Linked DNA regions of Homo sapiens. The protein of the gene in region 1 interacts with the protein of each later gene in a pairwise test. Each region holds a gene or a part of one and is shown in the gene's direction. Other genes may lie near its edges.

Evidence for each region.
Region 2: the proteins of REX1BD (region 1) and NUP58 interact in binary tests that used the Homo sapiens proteins (3 or more experiments, as listed by UniProt).
Region 3: the proteins of REX1BD (region 1) and DNAJB6 interact in binary tests that used the Homo sapiens proteins (3 or more experiments, as listed by UniProt).
Region 4: the proteins of REX1BD (region 1) and ICAM5 interact in binary tests that used the Homo sapiens proteins (3 or more experiments, as listed by UniProt).

What each region holds. Positions count from the first base shown.
Region 1 is NC_000019.10:18,584,017-18,591,844, forward strand, and holds the start of REX1BD (required for excision 1-B domain-containing protein), read left to right. Parts: upstream 1-4,781; 5' UTR 4,782-4,785; coding exon 4,786-4,884; intron 4,885-4,977; exon of another isoform or gene 4,978-4,978; coding exon 4,979-5,061; exon of another isoform or gene 5,062-5,178; coding exon of another isoform or gene 5,179-5,396; coding exon 5,397-5,667; intron 5,668-6,837; coding exon 6,838-6,917; intron 6,918-7,828.
Region 2 is NC_000013.11:25,339,625-25,342,921, forward strand, and holds the end of NUP58 (nucleoporin p58/p45), read left to right. Parts: intron 1-340; coding exon 341-510; 3' UTR 511-2,797; downstream 2,798-3,297. UniProt on the Homo sapiens protein: Component of the nuclear pore complex, a complex required for the trafficking across the nuclear membrane.
Region 3 is NC_000007.14:157,339,983-157,347,038, forward strand, and holds part of DNAJB6 (dnaJ homolog subfamily B member 6), read left to right. Parts: intron 1-7,056. UniProt on the Homo sapiens protein: Has a stimulatory effect on the ATPase activity of HSP70 in a dose-dependent and time-dependent manner and hence acts as a co-chaperone of HSP70. Plays an indispensable role in the organization of KRT8/KRT18 filaments.
Region 4 is NC_000019.10:10,292,907-10,297,289, forward strand, and holds the end of ICAM5 (intercellular adhesion molecule 5 precursor), read left to right. Parts: intron 1-91; coding exon 92-340; intron 341-791; coding exon 792-1,037; intron 1,038-1,133; coding exon 1,134-1,412; intron 1,413-1,494; coding exon 1,495-1,734; intron 1,735-2,439; coding exon 2,440-2,706; intron 2,707-3,432; coding exon 3,433-3,710; 3' UTR 3,711-3,872; downstream 3,873-4,383. UniProt on the Homo sapiens protein: ICAM proteins are ligands for the leukocyte adhesion protein LFA-1 (integrin alpha-L/beta-2).

The sequences.
Region 1 (7,828 bases):
CCACTGCACTCCAGCCTGTGCGACAGAGCGAGACTCCCTCAAAAAAAAAAAAAAAAAATCACCTTCATTGCGCCCAGGGACCACAATCCTCAGGGAAAGTCGAGAAGATTAATGAAACACTCAAAAGGCACTCAAGGAAATTAACACAAGAAACTCACCTCCCATGGAAACTCACCCTCTTGCCCATAGCATTATTAAGGATCCTAAATTCTCCCCACAAGATAGGACTCAGTCCTTATGAAATGCTATATGGACAGCCTTTTCTCACAAACAACCTCTTACTTGATTGAGAAACTGCCAACTTGGTCAAGGACATAACTTCTTTGGCTAGGTACCAGCAAATCCTAAAGACATTACCCGAGGGATGCCACCGAGAAAAGGGAAAAGCATCGTTCCATCCCAGGGATCTAGTATTAGTCAAGTCCCTCCCCTCTACCTCCCCATCCCTAGATCCATCGTGGGAAGGACCATATTTGGTTATCCTCTCCACTCCAACTGCAGTCAAGGTGATTGGAGTGGAGTCTTGGATCCATCACACCTGAATCAAACCTTGGATACAGCCTGAAAAACCCGCAGAATCATTAGCTTGGGAATCTAAGAGTCAGCCAGACAAACCTTCTTACACCCACGAGCCATTGGAAGACTTATGTATCCTCTTTCAGAAGGAAAATTAATCAGTGCTCATAAGTTCTACCTCAGTTCTTGTTTTAAAAACAGAATGTACTCTAACATCCTAACATTCCTTGCCTTTGCCCAAGTCTTAACCTTTCCCCGCTCAATGTCTTCCCCTAATCTTGAGGGAATTATTATTATTATTATTATTTTTTTTTTTTTTTTTTGAGACAGAGTCTCGCTCTGTCGCCCAGGCTGGAGTGCAGTGACGTGATCTCGGCTCACTGCAAGCTCTGCCTTCCGGGTTCACACCATTCTCCTCCCTCAGCCTCCCAAGTAGCTGGGACTACAGGCGCCCACCACCACACCTGGCTAATTTTTTGTATTTTTAGTAGAGACGGGGTTTCACCGTGGTCTCGATCTGCTGACCTCGTGATCTGCCCTCCTCAGCCTCCCAAAGTGCTGGGATTACAGGCGTGAGCCACCGTGCCCGGCCTACCTTGAGGGAATTATAAACATGTCCTCCAGGTTTTTATTTGAAGCACTTCCCAATCAGAGTAACTCATCCTGTTGGGTTTGCATGAACCCTAATTTCCCCCTTATATACAGCAGTTCCGGCCCCCCTCAACATATGGGTGGAAAGCTCTGAGGCCTCATACATAGCTAACACTTCTAAGGGTCCAGGATTTTTTCATCCTAGTGATAGGTCCAATTTCCCTGACAGGGCTCAAGCAGCCTTAAAAGCAGCCGCCGCCATTCTCCGACAATTCGCTCTATCAGCTATCCCAATCATAGGTTCTGTGGGCACAATAACCTCCTTCTCTTCGCCTCCACTCCTTTGTATCTCCCATCAAGTGTTCCCATGATCACAAGGTGTGGGACACGTGGCTGGCTGCAACTATAGCTTGCCTTGGATATAGAGTTCAAATATTCTAATTCTTACAGTACGACTACTGGCACCCCAATGTTTTGTGGAAATAAACATGAGTTCCTTGGAAACCCTATTTCAGTCACCTATCCCTTAAGATTTACCACCCCAAGCCAAATAATTCCCCCACCAGAGGCCAAAACAACAAGCAATTACTGCTGGGGCAGACTTCCTTTTGCCCAGGATATCCCCCTCCTGGGACTTGGTTCCTCTCTCACAGGCAAAGGGTTAAAAAAACCCCATTGCTTCCTGCTTCCTGTCTGGGGTGCGCGAGTTTTTCTTTTTGTTGTTGTTGTTTTGTTTTGTTTTTGAGATGGAGTCTCGCTCTGTCGCCCAGGCTGGAGTGCAGTGGCGCGATCTCCCTCACTGCAAGCTCCGCCTCCCAGGTTTGCACCATTCTCCTGCCTCAGCCTCCCGAGTAGCTGGGACTACAGGCGCCCACCACCACACCCAGCTAATTTTTTGTATTTTTAGTAGAGATGGAGTTTCACCATGTTAGCCAGGATGGTCTTGATCTCCTGACCTCGTGATCCACCAGCCTTGGCCTCCGAAAGTGCTGGGATTACAGGCGTGAGCCACTGCACCCAGCCGAGAGTTTTTCTTAATGCAGCTAGCCACCGGTTTGCCTTACAGGAACCCCATAATACGTCCTTGGCAAATTCTATTCAGCTCCAACTGCTAGGAGTGGCCCATTTGTCCTGAACCCTCAAATCATGGGAATGAGAAATGAATTTAGACTGACCACAGCCCTTATGAGTTTTCAGCTACAGGGGTGTATAGAACCCTGATAAGGAGTTTTCTTTGTGTGTGGAAGATCCTTCTATATTTGCCTCCCCACCAACTGGACAGGAACTTGTACTTTAGCCTACATAGTACCTCCTGTGACTTATTCCTTTTCAGAAGAGGCAGTAGCTGTGCCCATTCATGCTAAGCTTCAGCCGAGAGCAATCTCACTACTTCCTCTATTGGCTGGTTTAGGATTTACTACCACCTAGGAAGTGGACTCACAGCCTAGATGAAATCTCTCTCCAACTTACTCAAATCCAGGACCAAATAGACTCATTAGCAGCTGTGGTTCTCCAGAACCAGTGAGCACTAGATCTCCAATCTCCTCACTGCCGAAAGGGGAGGAACATGCCTTTTTCTGAACAAGGAATGTTGTTTTTATGTCAATAAATCAGGCATAGTGAGAGATGGAATTAAATGACTTCAGGATAGAGCTAGCAGACTACATGGTGGGACAACCGAAACTACCTCAGGGTTCTCACAGCCTGTTCTCCACTGGCTTCTTCCATTTTTAGGTCCCTTCCTTATGATTATTCTAGGAGTAACCTTTGGCCCATGTCTTTTCAGTTCCTTCATCCTTTCGTTTCTTCCTGAATAGAATCAATGAAACTAGAAATGTTACTGCAGATGGAACCTCAGATGACTTCAACCAGCACCTATTATCAAGGACCCCTAAACCAGCCTGCCGGCCCATACCCGGACGTTGACACCCAAACCACCTCTCACGAGGAAACCTCAGCTACAGAACCCCTTCTATGCCCCTATTCAGCAGGAAGCAATTAGAGTGGTCATCCTCCCACACCCCAACAGCAGTTGGGCTCTCCTGTTGAGAGAGGGGACTGAGGGGTGGAGTTGGCAGGATTTACTGGGCAGGTTTGGGGACTTTCACAGAAGACCCCTGTGACTCAGTGTTTTGAGTTCTTAACCAATCGAGTGAAGGATTCAGAATTAACCACTCCAGGCCGGGCGCGGTGGCTCACGCCTGTAATCCCAGCACTTTGGGAGGCCGAGGCGGGCGGATCACGAGGTCAGGAGATTGAGACCATCCTGGCTAACCCGGTGAAACCCTGCCTCTACTAAAAATACAAAAAATTGGCCGGGTGTGGTGGCGGGCGCCTGTGGTCCCAGCTACTGGGGAGGCTGAGGCAGGAGAATGGCGTGAACCCGGGAGGCAGAGCTTGAAGTGAGCCGAGATCGTGCCATTGCACTGCAGCCTGGGCGACAGAGCGAGACTCTGTCTCACTAAAAAAAAAAAAAAAAAAAAACAAAAAAAAAAAACACTCCAGAGGAGGATTGAAAAAAGAACCACTCTCAATGGACAAAAAGAAAGGGGAGGGGTAACATAGGGATATGAGCCCTAGCCACCGGAGCCAGCAACGGCAACCCTTCCGGGTCCCCTTCCAGCATGTGGAAGCTTTCCTTTCGCTTTGTTCAATAAACTGCCCTGCTGCTCACTCTCCTGGTCCGTGGACTCTTTTTGATCTGTAACACACACCGCGAAGGTCCACAGCTTCATTCTTCAAAGTTAGCGAGACCACGAACCCATCGGCAAGAAAAACTCCCAACTCACTAACAGCCTAGTCCCTTCCCCCTTAAAGGCTGGTGTCTGTCACCCCATACCTGAGCTGGTCCCTCTTCACTAAGTCAGGCTACCAGCATCTTCCTGCTCCTCCGGCTGGGCCCCTGGAGGAGGAAGCTTTCCAAAGCTCTGTCTAGCCCATGTATCCCTCCAGCAGGAAGCTCCAAGGCCTCCTCTGTACTTTGAGGTCGTTCTGGCCCCTGCTATGCTCCAGGCTCAGGGCTATTACACAAGACACCCAATTCAACTCGGTGGGCTGTTGACACCGTCCCTGTCACTGAATCTTGTCTTCACCCCTGTGATTCTCTGAAGAGCCAGTGAATCTCTGTTAATGTTGGTGGAGTTCCAGCCACTGCACTTTTTTTGAGGCAGACTCACTGTGGCTCCGGCTGGAGTGCAGTGGCATGGTCATAGCTCATGGCAGCCCCCAACTCCCGGGCTCATGTAATCCTCCCACCTCAGCCTCCCGAGTAGCTGGGACTGGAGGCGGGAGCCACCATGTCGGGCTAATTGGTTTTTCTGTAGAGATCGGGCCTCCCTAGGTTGCCCAGGCTTACTTAACACTCTTGAACGTCAAAACCCACGCTCAGTACCCGCTTCAAGTGGAAGTCGGTGTTGAGATACAAGCATAGGAACGAACTCAAGGCTAACAGCTGTTCTGTATTCAGAGCCGCACAATCAAGGAAAAACACGATCGGAGGCGGGCCCTGGACGGGAACAAGAAGGGTGGGCTTGACTGGGCGGCCCGCGGTCTTGGTTCCCCTTTCTTCCTTCTGGCTGGCCGGCCGCAGGGTAGGGGGTCCGTGGACCTCCCGGCCTGTAGGGGGCGTCGGGCGCAGCGGAAGGGCCTGCTCCGGAGCCTGGCCAGGGCTGCGCAGTCATGATCACCGAGACCGCGGCGGAGCCTACGGTCCCTGCAGTGCCTGCTGCTGAGGAGGCCACCGAAGCTCGGGGACGCGAGGAGCCGGCGTGGCCCTGGGTGAGCCCAGGCCCAAGCGGGAACGGGCGCGGGGCGGGCGGCGCAGACCCAGGGGCGCGGGCTTCATGCCCCAGCCGTGCCCCCTGTCCCGCAGAAAGACGCCCCGATCCGGACGCTGGTGCAGCGCATCCACCAGCTGCAGGCTGAGCGCGCGCAGGGCTTCCGCCGACTGGAGGAGTGAGTGGGGGCGCGGAGGGGCTCAGGGTTCGGTCCCCCGCCCGCTCCGGGCGTGGGCGTGTTCTCGGCGGGCGTGCCTGGAGGAGGAGCTGGGTCCTTGTGTGGCTGCAGAGTCAGATGGGGCGGGGATTTCGGGGCACCGGGTCCTCACCTTCACGAAAAAGGCCCCACAGCACGTCCCCACTACCCGACGACTCACTCTTCGTGGCTTCTCTCTCCTCCCCAAGAGCAGGGGTGGGCCTGTCTCGCGTTCCCCTGCGGGAGTCAGGAAGCGTCCTTCCTACCTACCAGTCCTCCCCTCTGGTGTCTGGGGACACTTCCTGGGGGCCTTTCAGGTGGTTGGCGCCGGTGCAGGGCCTGAGAGCCTGGGGGCGCGGCCTCAGGGTCCCCACATGCCGCAGAGGCCACCGCCAGTACCTGCGCAGCGGCCCTGACTACGACTTCGCGCGCTACCGGAGCACAGTGCACGGGGTGACCCAGGCCTTCGCCGCCGCCTCGCGGGAGGTGCTGGCGGTGGAAGCAGAGCTGGGCGGGCCTCGCAGGCAGCCGCTGCTCGCCGGCCACGTGCGCAGCCTGCAGGAGCTGGAGCAGACGCGGCTGGGCACGGTGAGGCCACCACCCCTTCCCCGCCGTGTCTCTAGGACCCTGGCCGGCTCCTCTCATGACGCACCCCTGGTTGGGGGGTGGTCCCAGTATCCCATACACAGACCTCACCCCTTCCTGTCCCACCCCAATCCTCTATTAAGGCTTCACTTGGGGATTCTCGGACCTTGCCCTCTGCTGTTCATCCCCAATTTTTTTCCCAAGTTTTGTCCTTATTCCCAGAGCACTCCCGCTTTCTCCCAGCTCCGCCTAAATGCTATTCCAAGATGCCCAGATCCCGCCCCAACAATGCTCCACCCACTCTGGTTGTTCCGCGTCTAGGGTCCCACCCTCAACCTCCCGTAGATACAGGCGAGGGGGGTCCCAGGCCACGCCTCCTCCGTATTATTCCTCCATCACAGCTTTAGTTCTTTGCCTATTTCTCTCTTGCGATCCGCCTGCTCGGCCCTGCAACCGTGTGTGACTGGAATTCCTAGGCCACGCCCCCCATGAGCGACCCGTCTCAGCGTCTCTTTGGCCTTTTTCTTTCTGGTGTTTTTTTTTTTTTTTTTTTTTTTTAAGACAGGCTCTTGCTCTCTTGCTCTCTCACCCAGGCTAGAGTGCAATGGCGCGATCTCGGCTAACGGCAACCTCCGCCTCCCAGATTCAAGCGATTCTCCTGCCTCAGCCTCCTGAGTAGCTGGGATTACAGGCATAATTTTTGTATTTTGTATTTTTTTTAGTAGAGACGGGGTTGTGCCATATGGGCAAGGCTGGTCTCGAACTCCTGGTCTCAAGCGATCCGCCCTCTTCTGCTTCCCGAAGTGCTGGGATTTCAGGCGTGAGCCACCGCGTCCAGGCTTTTTGGCCTACTTTTATCCTGGGTCCCCGTCCCTGGGACCATGAGGCGCAACCTAACCCACCCCTACGGCCAATGCCTGGCTAAGACGTCACTGTTGTTCCCAGGCCACGCCCACATCGCGCTCAGCACTGCCTCTGGCCTGCCTGCTGTCTCCTTTCTGAGAGAGCCTCTAAACTGAATTTCGGACTCTTCCTACACAAAGCACTGCCCCTCGTGGTTCTACCCGGGCACTGCCTTTCTGGGTGCCTCTGTTTTTTCCTGAACATCCTTGGAGGGCAGGGGGTGGGTTCTGCTCGTGGAGACATCCTTCGTGTTGCTCATTCCCCCACCAGGTGGCCCTGCTGCAGTTGATGGAGACGCCAGAGCTGGCGGGGCAGGAGGACGCTGTACGGATGCAGCAGCTGAAAATGAAGTGAGCGCTGCTGCCCAAGCCGCCTGGCTATGCTCGATTTGCACCAGGGTTGGCACGGTCAGGACGCTGCCAGCAGAGGAACCCTCTGCCAGTGCACAATGGTGTTCTCACCTGGTGGCCCTCAGATGTACACTTCCCCAGAGGGCACAGCCGTGAAACTTCACATCAGTTTCGCTGTGCATTGCTGGGACACTGCTGTATACCTCGACACATGCCAATCCTGCACACGTGGCTGTCCGTGGAGCTTGGACATGCCCCACTGAGCACAGACCTTCAGATGCCTGTCCTCAGCCCCCAAGCACACACACTCATGTACACACACATTTGACAAAGTCACACTTCATAACCTCCTAATGGTACACACCCCACCAAGATGGCCTTTTCTTTTCTTTTTTTTCTGAGATGCAGTCTCACTCTGTCACCAGGCTGGAGTGCAGTGGCGCGATCTCAGCTCACTGCAACCTCCGCCTCCCGGGTTCAAGTGATTCCCCTGCCTCAGCCTCCTGAGTAGCTGGGACTACAGGCGCGTGCCACCACGCCCAGCTAATTTTTTGTATTTTAGTAGAGATGGGTTTCACCATGTTGGCCAGGATGGTCTCGATCTCCTGACCTCGTGATCTGCCCACCTCAGCCTCCCAAAGTGCTGGGATTACAGGCGTAAGCCAGCACGCCTGGTCCTTTATTTTCTTTTCTTTTTTCTTTCTTTTTTTTGAGATAGAGTCTTGCTCTGTCACCCAGGCTGGAGTGCAGTGGTGCGGTCTTGGCTTACCGTAACCTCTGCCTCCTAAGTAGCTTGGATTACAGATGCCCGCCACCATGCCTGGCTAATTCTTGTATTTTTAGTAGAGACGGGGATTCGCCATGTTGGCCAGGCTTGTTTTGAACTCCTGACCTCAGGTGATCTGCCTGCC
Region 2 (3,297 bases), on another chromosome or scaffold:
TTGATAAAATGTTTTTGGTGGGTCTAAGGAGGAAGGCACCTTGACATATTTAATTAACAGGAAAGTTTCTGGCAACTTGAAGTTTATATAGATTTTAGTAATTTGTGCTAAGGTTTCTCTTTTGACCTGCATCACTACACTCTCTTTCAGGGTGCCACTTAGTTGTTAGCTATATTATTTTCCTGTTAAAATTTCATGTTAGAAATTTAGGGCTTTAATATATTTGCTATTCTTACAGATTATGTATTCTTTTAGATAGAAATTTACTGCTCCTCCCTGTTTTTATATTTGTTTTTGGAATTCAACTTCTGATATGAATATTTTTTTCCCTAAACATAAGGCTTTGGCAGCTCAAGTACATCTGGGTTTAACTTCAGCAATCCTGGCATCACGGCATCAGCTGGTTTGACTTTTGGGGTGTCCAATCCTGCCTCTGCAGGTTTTGGAACAGGAGGACAACTCCTTCAGTTGAAGAAACCTCCAGCTGGAAACAAAAGAGGAAAAAGATAAACATGGGTTGATGTGTTGAGAGAATCCATAGCAGCACCGTTCATTCTATGAGTCTATTTTTCTAATGATGCAGTAATTAAATTGCATCCCAGGAGATTTATAAAGTTTTGATATTTTTCCCTACTCTGGAATTTGAACTTTCTTCATGTTTGCCATACTGAACATCTTTTTTCTTGTGGAATTTAAAGTCCAGCTGTGTTTTCTTTTTAATTTGATTCTCAGTGTAAGAAATGTTCTGATTACATCACTGATTGGTAATGGTTAGAAACCATTAACCTAAAACTTACTATTTAACCTAGTGTTTTTGTTGATGAGGTTTACATTATGTGAATACATGCACATTTGTTTCTTATACAGGTGGTGTGAACTCTAGGGCCTATACTAGAATCAATTTGTTCCTTGTTAAAGGCCTTTTGAATTATACTGCAGGGCATCTTGTGAATATGTATGTAAATATATACAGAATAATACACACAGTTGTGTGTGCATATAAAATACATATTTACGCCAGGCGTGGTGGCTCACGCCTGTAATCCCAGCACTTTGGGAGGCCGAGGCAGGCGGATCACCTGAGGTCAGGAGTTTGAGACCAGCCTGACATGGTGAAACCCCATCTCTACGAAAAATACAAAAATTAGCTGGGCATAGTGGCGGGTACCTATAATCCCAGCTACTCGGGAGGCTGAGGCACGAGAATCACTTGAAGCCGGGAGGTGGGGGTTGCAGTGAGCCGAGATCACACCACTGCACTCCAGCCTGGGCAACAAGAGCAAAACTCCGTCTCAAAAAAGATGAAAATAAAATAAAATATATATTTACAGGCCTACAACTTTTGCCTCAGACTGTTCCCCTTTTCTAAGGGTATTCAAGTTTTCACCTTTTAAGCTTCATATCCTCAGTGCTTGTAGAATGATGAGCTTAGAGGTACCAGGTCATTGCAGTTGTTTGCTTAAAGACTTATTGAAATGGTTACTGGCGTAAATACTTGGCCAACTCAACTTTATTGCCCCTGATCTTTTCCATTTTTGTTTCCACCTTAACCTATAGCAGCTCCTCCAAATGAGGAATGCTGTAAGTAAGACTCATCAAACAGATTTTAACCATTTTATTATCCTGTGTGTCCTTACATTGCTTCTGTGAGATGTTTTTTTCTTATCTGAGATGAACTTTCAGGAGCCTATTTGAACTCCAGACTGGTGTTCTGGGGCAAAGAGCTATTAGCCAAACTGATTCTATGCAGGTGAAGGATGCACTAAAGTTCTCACTTTAGTGAGAACTTTTCTAGCTATTCCAATACAGAGTTCTTTCTTATAGGGCTATTGATATTGACACCAAATGGAGTGGCTTCTCAGCCTCTTAATGTCTTAAGTAAGTGCTTAATTTGGAATAGAGAAACCAGTATATTTTAAAAAAGAAAAATATTCTTTGTAGCAACTGTAAATTCTCCCATTATAACAGTGAACAGAGCTCCAGGTAATAACGCATAGGCATGTCAGGTTGCATCTGTATATTTGACTACATTAGTATTAGTGACATCAGGTGGATATAAAAGAAAACCCTTGGAAAGAGAACTGCCTTAGCCATGATTTCGTTAGTAGACCTATTTATGATTCAATTGCAATTTTCAGATAGGATGTGAACATGGAATTTCATTGAAAATAGTTTAATTTTTTATATAAAAGGTTTTGTATATAATGTGTGTCAGTGACTATTTTCAAAATCATTTTCATCAAGACACCTTTTTTCTAAAATAGGCATTGCATACACATATGCACACGTATGTGCATGTGCCACACATTTTTTGTATAATGTTGGGTTTGATTATAAAAGTGTTGTCAAATGTTTTATTTATCTGCATATAGCAGTGGTTGGCTTTTTTGAATTGAAATTTTTGCGCATTGATGCATTGAAATAAGGAAAATTATTTATCTCTGAGCACTAAACTTATTTTTGCATATTTCTGTAATATTGCAGTCCCCAGATCCAGAACATGGGAAGTTAGGGAAAATGTGTGATTTTGTGTTTTGAATTACTGTCAGAATTACATACACAATTACAACAAACTTTTTTTAAAAGACATTTCATTGTACTGCAAAAATCTGAATATTTATATTTCTTGTTTTTTTCTTTATATGTTTTGCATTTTAATATGTTGAGCCACTGGAAATTTGTAACAGATTAATTTGTTATAGGAGTTTAAATGTGTTGTCATTGTCTCCATTGTCTTTGTCCAGAGCCTATTATTATGGAAACAATAAAATTTATTGTGTCAGTTGCTTTGATTCTTTATAGGTGTCAGTAGCTGTTCTTAATATGTAATTTTATTATTGCTCTTTTAGTCTCCGGTTGGGTTTTAGTATATTCCCTTCATTGGTTTATACATCTTGCTCTTTTTTAAACAGAAGAGTGAACATAAGATAGTAAATTATTTCTCACTTGCTTTTGTCTTCTCAAAATGACAAAAACAGTGAACATTTTTAGTTATAAAGAATAATATTGAGTAAAAAAGGAAAAATCCCTTTGAACTTTTGGGCCCTAATTCCCTTCCATTTCCTAGTGTGCAGTCTGATGGTTTGATATGTATCCTTGTAGACCCTTTTAAATATGTCTTAAAAGAATATATAAATGTTACTTCTCTTTTCTTTTTCTTTTATATTCTCTCTGATTTTTTATCACATTTTATTCTCTTGGATCCCTCTTTACTTTTTTAACAAATAGGTTAAAAAGTTTGTGTTCTGGACTTGTTCTTTTTCCCTTCTATTAGTATATCATCAGCATCTTTCTGTG
Region 3 (7,056 bases), on another chromosome or scaffold:
CATCCTGAACGTGTCGCTGTGGACTGGGTGTCACCGCGGGACCGCACAGACACCTTACTGTCGTCTGCTGTAAAGGTCAGCTTCTATATTGGTTAATGCTTACAGATATCTGTTGAGGAATAAGAGAATGTAATTAGCCTTTGTATTTGTGAGTTGACGTTTTGACGGGATTTTTACTTCTTAGTATTTATTTGCATCGAGGTTACACACTGGATTAACAGCGTTTTTTGGAAACCTTTTTAAAACTTTTTCATTTCCTCAGAAATGATTCTGTTCAAAATGTGGTTTGGTTAAATTTGTGCAGGACCCCACCTGGTGGTGAGAGGCGGGTAACTGCAGGCTCATTAGCGAGTAAGAGTAGGATCAGTGGCAGGATTTAGCAAATGGTGTAGTTCAAGGATGAATAGAATTTGAGAATATCAAACTCAAAAAAATGAGGTTAATGAGAAGAAGAGCAAAGTTGGTGAAAACAAGAATATGTTAGAAACGATGATGTAGGAATGGAAAAACGACAACGCCTACCTGCAGAAAAGTCAACTAGTAAAAATGTGATTTTTTTTTTTGTATTGATATTAATGAGGTGTTTTGTCAAACAAAACCCTTTATGTTTTTGTATGGACATAAATCACTGTTGACCTGTTTCATGTTCCTGGAGATATCCTACTTGAGAAGGAATATTGATTGATGATTAGTTGACTGACTGATTTACTTGAGATGGAGTCCTTGCTCTGTGTCCCAGGCTGGAGTGCAGTGGCGCGGTCTTGGCTCACTGCACTCCTGGGTTCAAGCCATTCTCCTGCTTCAGCCTGCCAGGTAGCTGGGATGACAGGCGCGTGTCACCACGCCTGGCTAATTTTTGTATTTTTAGTAGAGACGGTTTCACCATGTTGGTCAGGCTGGTCTCGAACACCTGACCTCAGGTGATCCCCTGCCTCCGCCTCCCAAAGTGCTGGGATTACAGGCGTGACCCACCGCACCTGGCTGTGTGTGTGTGTGTGTGTGTGTGTGTGTGTGTGCGCGCGCGCAGGTGGAATCACCCTGTGTGCCCAGGCTGGTCTCGAACTCCTGGCCTCAAGTGAGTCTTTCATCCCGGCCTGTCAAAGTGCTAGAATTACAAGTGTGAGCCAGGTGCCTGGCCAGATTTTAGATTTTTTTGTTGTTGTTGAGATGGAATCTCATATTGCCCAGGCTGGATGCAGTGGCGCCATCTCGGCTCACTGCAACCTCTGCCGCACGGGTTCAAGCGATTCTCCTGCCTCAGCCTCCCGAGTAGCTGTGATTACAGGCACCTGCCACTGCTCCCGACTGATTTTTGTATTTTTAGTAGAGACGGGGGTTTCACCATCTTGGCCAGGCTGGTCTTGAACTCTTGACCTCGTGATCCACCCGCCTCGGCCTCCCAAAGTGGTGGGATCACAGGTGTGAGCCACTGCGCCAGGCCATATTTTAGAATTCTTAAGCTGTGTTGCAAAATTACGTGTCTTTGGAAGGGTGATTTAGTTTACACTACATATGATTTTTCCCCCTTTGATATTTTTCTACTTACCTTTTGCCACCAAAGGCTTAAATTAAAAGTGTGTTTTATATTTGTGTTGTGCATATATACGTGTGTGCTCTAGTTGGTATGCTTATGAACTGTGTACTAATACTTATTCCTCTCTGCCACCTTGAGATGGCATGTACCACTTGGGTGGGCTTTGAATCTGAAGTTATTTGTGTTTATAGGAATGTCCAGGACACAGAGTGCTTAGAAAGTATTGATTGAATTAGATTCTTTCTAGTTTGTGTATGTCCTGATGACCTTCCTGTGATTAATAATGGAATCCAGAATTCAAGAAAGTTGGAAAAAATAAGTTTCAGCAGCACTGGAGACTGAGTACTTAACCGAGTGTTGCTTTGTTTATTTTAGAGTCTCACACTGTCACCCAGGCTGGAGTGCAGTGTCGCGATCTTGGCTCACCGCAACCTCCACCTCTGGGGTTCAAGCGATTCTCCTGCCTCAGCCTCCCTGGTAGCTGAGATTACAGGCGTTCGCCACTACACCTGGCTAATTGTTGTATATTTAGTAGAGAGTGGGTTTTGCCATGTTGGCCAGACTGGTTTGGAAGCAGGTGATCCACCTGCTTTGGCCTCCCAAAGTGCTGGGATTACAGGTGTGAAGCACCGAGCCTGGCCCTATTTTATTATAATAATAATTTTTTTTGAGACAGGGTCTCACTCTGTCACCCAGACTGGAGTGCAGTGGCGTGATCTCAGCTCACCCCAGCCTCCGCCTCCTAGTGTCAAGTGATTCTCCTACCTCAGGCTCCGGAGTAGCTGGGATTACAGGCACGTGCCACTATCCTGGCTAATTTTTTTTTTTTTTTTTTTTTTTTTTTGAGTTTCACTCTTGTTGCCCAGGCTGGAGTGCAGTGGTGCAATCTCAGCTCACTGCAACCTCTGCCTCCCAGGTTCAAGCGATTCTCCTGCCTCAGCCTCCCGAGTACATGGGATTACAGGCATGCACCACGACACCCAGCTAATTTTGTATTTTTAGTAGAGACAGGGTTTTGCCCTGTCCAACTCCTGACCTCAGGTCATCCGCCTGCCTTGGCCTCCCAAAGTGTTGGGATTACAGGCGTGAGCCAGCGTGCTGGCCTAACTTCTATATTTTTAGTAGAGATAGGGTTTCACCATGTTGGCCAGGCTGGTCTTGAACTTGTGACCTCAATCCACCTTCCTCGACCTTCCAAAGTGCTGGGATTACAGGTGTGAGCCACCAAGCCTGGCCTATTATGATTTTTTAATGAAAGGGAGTTAAGCTTGGAAGTATCTAATAGGTGATGAGTGCTAGTTGAAGAAATGGTCTCTGATCTTGAGTAATGGGGAAATAACTTCTGTGTTTGTTTCAGAAATATTTTAGGACATACTGGATAATGAAATAAGTAGGTGATGTGTGTGATAAGGAATGAAAATTCACTGCTGTGGGTTTTTTTTTTTCCTACCTGTCTGTACTTTTTTTGTTTTTGCTTTTTTTTTTTGTTGTTTGAGACCAAGTCTCACTCTGTCACTTAGGCTGGAGTGCAGCGGCGTGATCTTGGCTCACTGCAACCTTTGCCTCCCAGGCTCAAGCAATTCTTGTGCTTCAGCCTTCTTTCTGAGTAGCTGGGATTACAGATGTGCACCACCACACCCAGGTAATTTTTTTTTTTTTTTTAAGACAGAGTCTTGCTCTGTTGCTCAGGCAGGAGTGCAGTGGCACTATCTTGGCTCACTGCGCCTGCACCTCCCAGGTTCAAGCAATTCTCCTGCCTCAGGCTGCCGAGTAGCTGGGACTACAGGCGCTCACCACCATGCCTGGCTAATTTTTGTATTTTTAGTAGAGAAAGGGGTTTGCCATGTTGGCCGGGCTGGTCTTGAACACCTCAGGTGATCTGCGTGCCTCGGCCCTCCAAAGTGCTGGGATTACAGGCGTGAGCCACCTCACCTGGCCTCAGATGAATTTAGAAACCACTATTTTTTTTTGAGATGGAGTCTTGCTCTGTTGCCCCGGCTGGAGTGCTGTGGTGTGATCTCAGCTCACTGCAAACTCTCCCGGGTTCAAGCAGTTCTCCTGCCTCACCTGGAACTACAGGCGCCACCACGTCTGACTGGGTTTTGTATTTTTAGTAGAGACGGGGTTTCACCACGTTGGCCATGCTGTTCTCAAACTCCTGACCCCAGGTGATCCACCTGCCATGGCCTCCCAAAGTGCTGGGATTATACGCATGAGCTACCCACGCCTAATCTTTATGTGACGTGTTTTTTTAAAAGTCCTAAACTTAGAGGTCATTGAATTTATTGGAGAAGGTTATTTTTGATTAATGGCGATTAGGCTAATTTTTTTCATGGTTTTAATAGAGATTTTTCGTTTTTTTAAACTTGATTTAGATGTATTGCTTTTGGAAATTGCAGAAATTAACAAACCGAGTTTTCCTAAGAAATATTTTTTCTTAATTTCTTAATTGAAAAGTTTTCTATGGCTTCCTTAATAGACAGTAGGACCTAGTTAATAGTTTAAAGAAGTTTCATAATTGTTATTAGAAATGTTAATTATGGGCCGGGTGTGGTGGCTCACACCTGTAATCCCAGTACTTTGGGAGGCCAAGGTGGTCAGATCACAAGGTCAGGAGTTTGAGACCATCCTGGCTAGCATGGTGAAACCCCATCTCTACTAAAACAATACAAAAATCAGCTGGGCGTGGTGACAGGTGCCTGTAGTCTCAGCTACTTAGCAGGCTGAGGCAGGAGAATGGCGTGAACGCGGGAGGCGGAGCTTGCAGTGAGCCGAGATCCCTCTACTGCACTCTACTGCACTCTGCCTGGGTGACAGAGTGAGACTCCGTCTCAAAAAAAAAAAAAAATAGCCAGGCATTGTGGGACACACCTGTAGTCCCAGGTACTCGGGAGGCTGATGCAGGAGAATCGCTGGAACCAGGGAGGTGGAGGTTGCAGTGAGCTGAGATTGTGCTGCTGCACTCCAGCCTGGGCAACAGAGTGAGACTCAAACTCAAAAAAAAAAAAAAGTTAATTTTGTAGTTAGAGAATATCTTCCTGCTCTACGCAAATTCCCTTCCAGCCTGAAATTATTTGTTTTTTTATTTTTTATTTAAAAAAAAATTTATTATTTTTGTGACAGGGTCTTGCTCCGTTACGTAGGCTGGAGGGCATTGGTGCGTTCACGTCTCACTAGCATCGACTGCCTGGGCTCAAGTGATTTTCCTGCCTCAGCCACTTCCAGTAGCTGGGACTACAGGTGCACACTGCCACACCCTACTGAGTTTTTATATTTCGTAGAGACAAGATTTTGCTGTGTTACTCAGCGTGGTCTTGAACTCCTGAGCTGAAGTGATCCCCCTGCCTCAGCCTGCCAAAGTGTTAGGATTACAGGCATGAGCTACTGTACCCAGCTGTGATTTCTTTTAAAGTGCTACTTTACAGCACTGTCACTTTTATTTTATCATTTTTAACTTTAAAGTTTTTTGTTTATTTTTATTTATTTTATTTTTTGAGATGAAGTTTCGCCCTTGTTGCCCAGGCTAGAGTGCAATGGAGTGGTCTCGGCTCACTGCAACCTCTGCCTTCCAGGTTCAAGTGATTCTCCTGCCTCAGCCTCCCAAGTAACTGGGATTACAGGCGCCCGCCACCACACCTGGCTAGTTTTTGTATTTTTTGTAGAGACAGGATTTCACCATGTTGTCCAGACTGGTCTTGAATTCCTGACCTCAGGTGATCCACCCGCCTCAGCCTCCCAAAGTGCTGGGATTACAGGCGTGAGCCACTGCGCCTGGCTTAAAATTTTTATTTTTTATATATTTTGTTTTTTTCTGAGACAGGGCCTTGCCCTGTCTCTTGTCCAAGTTGGAGTGCAGTGACATGACATGGCTCACAGCATCCTTGATCTCTTGCGCTCAAGTGATCCTGCCATTTCAGCCTCCTGCATAGCTGGGAGTACAGGCATGTGCCACCCCACTCAGCTAATTTTTTTTATCTTTTTGTAGAGATGGTGTCTTACTGTGTTGCCCAGGCTGGTCTCAAGCTCTTGGGCTCAAGTGATCCTTCTGCACATTTCCAAGGTTGTTTCACTCCTGTGTCTTTGCTGTCTAGAAGCTTTTCAGTGTGATGTAATCCCACTTGTCTGTTTCGGCTTTTGTTCCTTGTGCTTTTGGGGGTCATATCCAAACAAAGATTGCTGAGGGGCCAAATTTTAAATTGTGTATAATTTTAATGACTTCAGATTTAAATAGCTGCATTTGGCTTATGGAGTCTTTTGAGCAGCATGGTTTTAAAAAGGTTTTTGCCAAGTGGGGTTCTAATGGACACCTATGCTTGTAGAGCTCTGATGTGAGTGATCTGCTGTAGAAATTACTTCTTTTGATTTAGTATATTATTTTAAAATGCAGGTGATGCACTGGTTTCTTGGTGAGGGAAGCTGGTTTTTCCTGGCTGAGCTTCTGTAGGGTGGAGGGCTGGAGTCCAGGCTCTCGCTGGGCAGGGAAGGCAGCTTGAGTGTGCCTTCCAGTCCTCCTGAGGGCCCACATTTTTCTGGGATCACCTGTTTTCTGTAATGTGCATTGAACACACGGGCCAGGAGAAGAGGGAAGTAGAGGAGCTTTGTCCTCTGTGCTCATCCTCACAGTGCTGGGCGGGCCAGAAGGATTCAGGGCCAACCTTAGGGAGATGAAGGCCAGTTAAAATGTTTTATTGCCACAAATGGTGTCTTTTAAGAAATGAATCCATGTATTTTACACTTAAATGATATTAGGCTACTCCGGGCACACTGCCTATGGGGTAGCCCTGCTCTGCAAGGAGTAGTAAAAAAAAAAAAAAAAAAAAAGTTAAAGATACAACTTAGTTTCTCTGTGACTAGGGAAATCGTCCAAGTATGTATCAAATAATGCTAATTGGTACCTAGTTTTATATCTTGATTAGGCAACTTTTTGCTTAAAATTGTTTTGGAATGCATTAGTATTTCTACAGCTTCAGGCTGCTTTATCATCTAATACACAGTTGGATATTTAATATATAGTTTTATCAGTTTTTTTTAAACACTGTTTTTGAGAGGTCTGAGGAAAAAAAAGATAGTGTTACCAAAAATACTTCTATAGGGAAATACTGATAGAAATGTATAGGTAGCCTTGAAATTCTGAGGTTAATAAAAAAATTTGAATGCAGGTAACCTTTCATGGAGTTTGTCAAATTTTAAATTGTGTCTTACATCAGTGATGACTGAAGCAGTAAGGAGTGAGCTTGCAGCAAACAGTGGGGATTGTTGCAGCATCAGCACTTCAGCCAGCTCTGCAGGTTTCCTTGGAGACACGTGGATTTCTCTTTCTAGACCTTCAGCTATTTTCTTTTTTTTCTTGTTTTCTTGAGATGGAGTCTTGCTCTGTCGCCCAGGCTGCAGTGCAGTGGTGCGATCTCGGCGCACTGCAAGCTCCACCTCTCGGGTTCACACCGTTCTCCTGCCTCAGCCTGCCAAGTAGCTGAGACTACAGGCGCCCGCCACCACGCCCGGCTAATTTTTTCTATTTTTAG
Region 4 (4,383 bases), 8.3 Mb from region 1:
CTTCCAAGGACCCGCCTGCTCCCTCACCGTGTCGTGGAGGCGGAGCCATTTCTTACGTCTAAGCCTCTGTAACCCCACGCCCTGCCCGCAGACGCTCCCCGGCTAGACGATTCGGACTGCCCCAGGAGTTGGACGTGGCCCGAGGGCCCAGAGCAGACGCTGCGCTGCGAGGCCCGCGGGAACCCAGAACCCTCAGTGCACTGTGCGCGCTCCGACGGCGGGGCCGTGCTGGCTCTGGGCCTGCTGGGTCCAGTCACTCGGGCGCTCTCAGGCACTTACCGCTGCAAGGCGGCCAATGATCAAGGCGAGGCGGTCAAGGACGTAACGCTAACGGTGGAGTGTGAGTGGGGGTGCGCAGGGTGCATTTCTATCTGGTTCAAGGTCTGGAGGGTGGCCAGCCTCCAGGGAAGAGTAGGAGTAGGGTATGAGGTGTCCCTTTGGGTGAGGTTTTGGGAAAGGGAAGAGGCTGGTTAGTGGGGTTGGAGAAAGATCTTGGAGGATGGAAGGGACCGGGTGGGCGTGCCCCTAGCCTAGGGCGTGGTATTTGGGCGGAGTCGTGGAAAGGCGGGCAGTCCAGAGTGTTTAAGTTTTTAGACGAAAAAGGCGCCACTGGTGGCTCAGGAAGCTCCCAGACAGAGTGCATGCCTCGACTAGCGTGACACCTCCTTGGATCGGCGTCCAAGGGTTATGCAGGGACAACACTTCGTGGAAGCCTTGCCGCGCCAAGGAGGGTCTAGGGACGTCAGATTTGCCCCCAAACCCCAAAGCCAACAATACACTCCCTCCTCCAGACGCACCAGCGCTGGACAGCGTGGGCTGCCCAGAACGCATTACTTGGCTGGAGGGAACAGAAGCCTCGCTGAGCTGTGTGGCGCACGGGGTACCGCCGCCTGATGTGATCTGCGTGCGCTCTGGAGAACTCGGGGCCGTCATCGAGGGGCTGTTGCGTGTGGCCCGGGAGCATGCGGGCACTTACCGCTGCGAAGCCACCAACCCTCGGGGCTCTGCGGCCAAAAATGTGGCCGTCACGGTGGAATGTGAGTAGGGGCACCGCGGAGTTAGGCAGGATCTGTGGGACAACCCCGGCTGGACTTCCTGGCCCCCGTGTGAGCCCCTGCAATCCTGTTTCCCAGATGGCCCCAGGTTTGAGGAGCCGAGCTGCCCCAGCAATTGGACATGGGTGGAAGGATCTGGGCGCCTGTTTTCCTGTGAGGTCGATGGGAAGCCACAGCCAAGCGTGAAGTGCGTGGGCTCCGGGGGCGCCACTGAGGGGGTGCTGCTGCCGCTGGCACCCCCAGACCCTAGTCCCAGAGCTCCCAGAATCCCTAGAGTCCTGGCACCCGGTATCTACGTCTGCAACGCCACCAACCGCCACGGCTCCGTGGCCAAAACAGTCGTCGTGAGCGCGGAGTGTGAGCGAGGCCCAGGCGGGTAGGGAGCAGGGGTGCCCCACGGTCCAGGCACTCCCTGACATCCCCCATGGCTGCTTTGCAGCGCCACCGGAGATGGATGAATCTACCTGCCCAAGTCACCAGACGTGGCTGGAAGGGGCTGAGGCTTCCGCGCTGGCCTGCGCCGCCCGGGGTCGCCCTTCCCCAGGAGTGCGCTGCTCTCGGGAAGGCATCCCATGGCCTGAGCAGCAGCGCGTGTCCCGAGAGGACGCGGGCACTTACCACTGTGTGGCCACCAATGCGCATGGCACGGACTCCCGGACCGTCACTGTGGGCGTGGAATGTGAGTGGGGGCAGCACCGGATGGAGGGGACACGGTCCTCGGAAGAATGACTCGCAGCGGTGGGAGCATTCAAGGGCACCTCTCCCAATCCCATTCTCGGGGACAGGGAATTCCAGCCTAAACCAGGGGGTAATGAAAATTCTAGCCAGGCGCAGTGGCTCAGGTCTGTAATCCCAACACTTTGGAAGGTTGAGGCGGATGAATCACTTGAGGCCAGGAGTTCGAGACCAGCCCGGCCAACATGGCGAAAACCCGTCTCTACAAAAATTAGCCGGTCGTGGTGGTGGGCGCCTGTGGTCCCAGCTACTTGGGAGGCTGAGGCAGGAGAATCGCTTGAGCCTGGGAGGCAGAGGTTGCAGGGAGCCGAGATCCCGCCACTGCACTCCAGCCTGGGCAACAGAGTGAGACTCTTTCTTAGAAAAACAGAAAAAGAAAATTATAGGGAATAGGAGCACGGCCCTCCTCAAATCCTGGATTAGAACACTGACCTGGGCTTCACCTCCTTCCATTCGGTGAAGAAGGGCGAGGAATTTTAGCCGCAACAGCAGCCTGATTGTCGGGGAAGGAGGCTCTGATAGGAGGCAGGATCCTCTTCTGCCCATCAGAGGCGCGGTGGTCTCCCATCGATCGTTGTGGGCCGGAGCAGGGCATTTGATCAGTGGCTGGGCCGGCGCTAAGCCCCACTTCACCTTCTGTGCCCTTCAGACCGGCCAGTGGTGGCCGAACTTGCTGCCTCGCCCCCTGGAGGCGTGCGCCCAGGAGGAAACTTCACGTTGACCTGCCGCGCGGAGGCCTGGCCTCCAGCCCAGATCAGCTGGCGCGCGCCCCCGGGGGCCCTCAACATCGGCCTGTCGAGCAACAACAGCACACTGAGCGTGGCAGGCGCCATGGGAAGCCACGGCGGCGAGTACGAGTGCGCAGCCACCAACGCGCACGGGCGCCACGCGCGGCGCATCACGGTGCGCGTGGCCGGTAAGTGGCAGCTGGGGAGAGGCGGGGCGAGGTATCTGAGAGGGGGCGTGACCTGGGTCTTGGGGCGGCCGGCCCCGCCTGCCTCCCTCTCGGTCCCGGTAGACTAGACGGAAGTGGGACAGAGTAGAAGTCAAAGGTGCCTTAGCGGGTGGGGCTGTTGATCGCACTTTGAGGGGTGGGAGATGGAGGTGGCAGGGGGACTGAATTCAAGGGGAGGGACCCTCCGGGGCTGTCACTGCTGCAGGAAAGGACTTTAAAACTTGGGCTGGATTCTGCGTGGTGGAAACTTGACCCAATTCACAATCCACTGTGGGGAAGATTGGGGAGGGACCAAAGTCATTGGATGTTGGAGGGAGAGAGGGGTCAAGATCGCCTTCTCTCACTTCCTGAAGCTCCTGGGGCTGGGTTCTCTCTGGGGTCGGGGGAACCTGACCTGGTCCTGCCGGTCCTCATTTTTTGGGGGATGGGGAGAGTTGACTTGTCGCCAGGGGGCTAAGTGTGGTCACGGGTTTATATCCCCATGGGCTGAAGTGCGATATAAATCGGGACTCGGGTCGCCCTGGCACTGGGAGTGGCCTTATTGCATGGGTTGTCTCCCTTCTCCCAAGGCCAGACAGTGAGCTCCCCGGGGCATGAGGACTGACTTCGTGCCTGTGGGAGTGCGGGGGGCGGTGGGAGAAGCCCCCCGGAGCTTGGCCACCCTCCGCGAGGGTCTCCACCCCGCAGGTCCGTGGCTATGGGTCGCCGTGGGCGGCGCGGCGGGGGGCGCGGCGCTGCTGGCCGCGGGGGCCGGCCTGGCCTTCTACGTGCAGTCCACCGCCTGCAAGAAGGGCGAGTACAACGTGCAGGAGGCCGAGAGCTCAGGCGAGGCCGTGTGTCTGAACGGAGCGGGCGGCGGCGCTGGCGGGGCGGCAGGCGCGGAGGGCGGACCCGAGGCGGCGGGGGGCGCGGCCGAGTCGCCGGCGGAGGGCGAGGTCTTCGCCATACAGCTGACATCGGCGTGAGCCCGCTCCCCTCTCCCCGCGGGCCGGGGGACGCCCCCCAGACTCACACGGGGGCTTATTTATTGCTTTATTTATTTACTTATTCATTTATTTATGTATTCAACTCCAAGGGCGTCACCCCCATTTTCTACCCATCCCCTCAATAAAGTTTTTATAAAGGAACTCCCTGTCTCCGCTTCTGTTTCTGCAAGGTGGAACAAGCCCAGGGTTCCAGTCGTGACCTCCCGAGTTATTCATTCAAAAAGCGATTTTTGAGAGGGCCTGGGGTGGTGGCTTAGGCCTGTAATCCCAGGACTTGTGGGAGGCCCAGGTGGGAGGATCCCTTGCACCCAAGAGTTTCAGACCAGCCTGGGCAACATAGGGAGACCCTACAAAAAATATTTTTCAAAAATTAGCCAAGGCCGGTCGCGGTGGCTCATGCGTGTAATCCCAGGACTTTGGAAGGCCGAGGCGGCCAGATCACGAGGTCGAGGTCATGAGATCGAGACCATCCTGGCCAATATGGTGAAACCCTGTCTCTACTAAAAATACAAAAATTAGCTGGGCATGGTGGTGCGCGCCTGTAGTCCCAGCTATTCGGGAGGCTGAGGCAGGAGAATCGCTTTAACCCCGGAGGCAGAGGTTGCAGTGAGCCGAGATCGTGCCACTGAACTCCAGCCTGGCGACAGAGCGA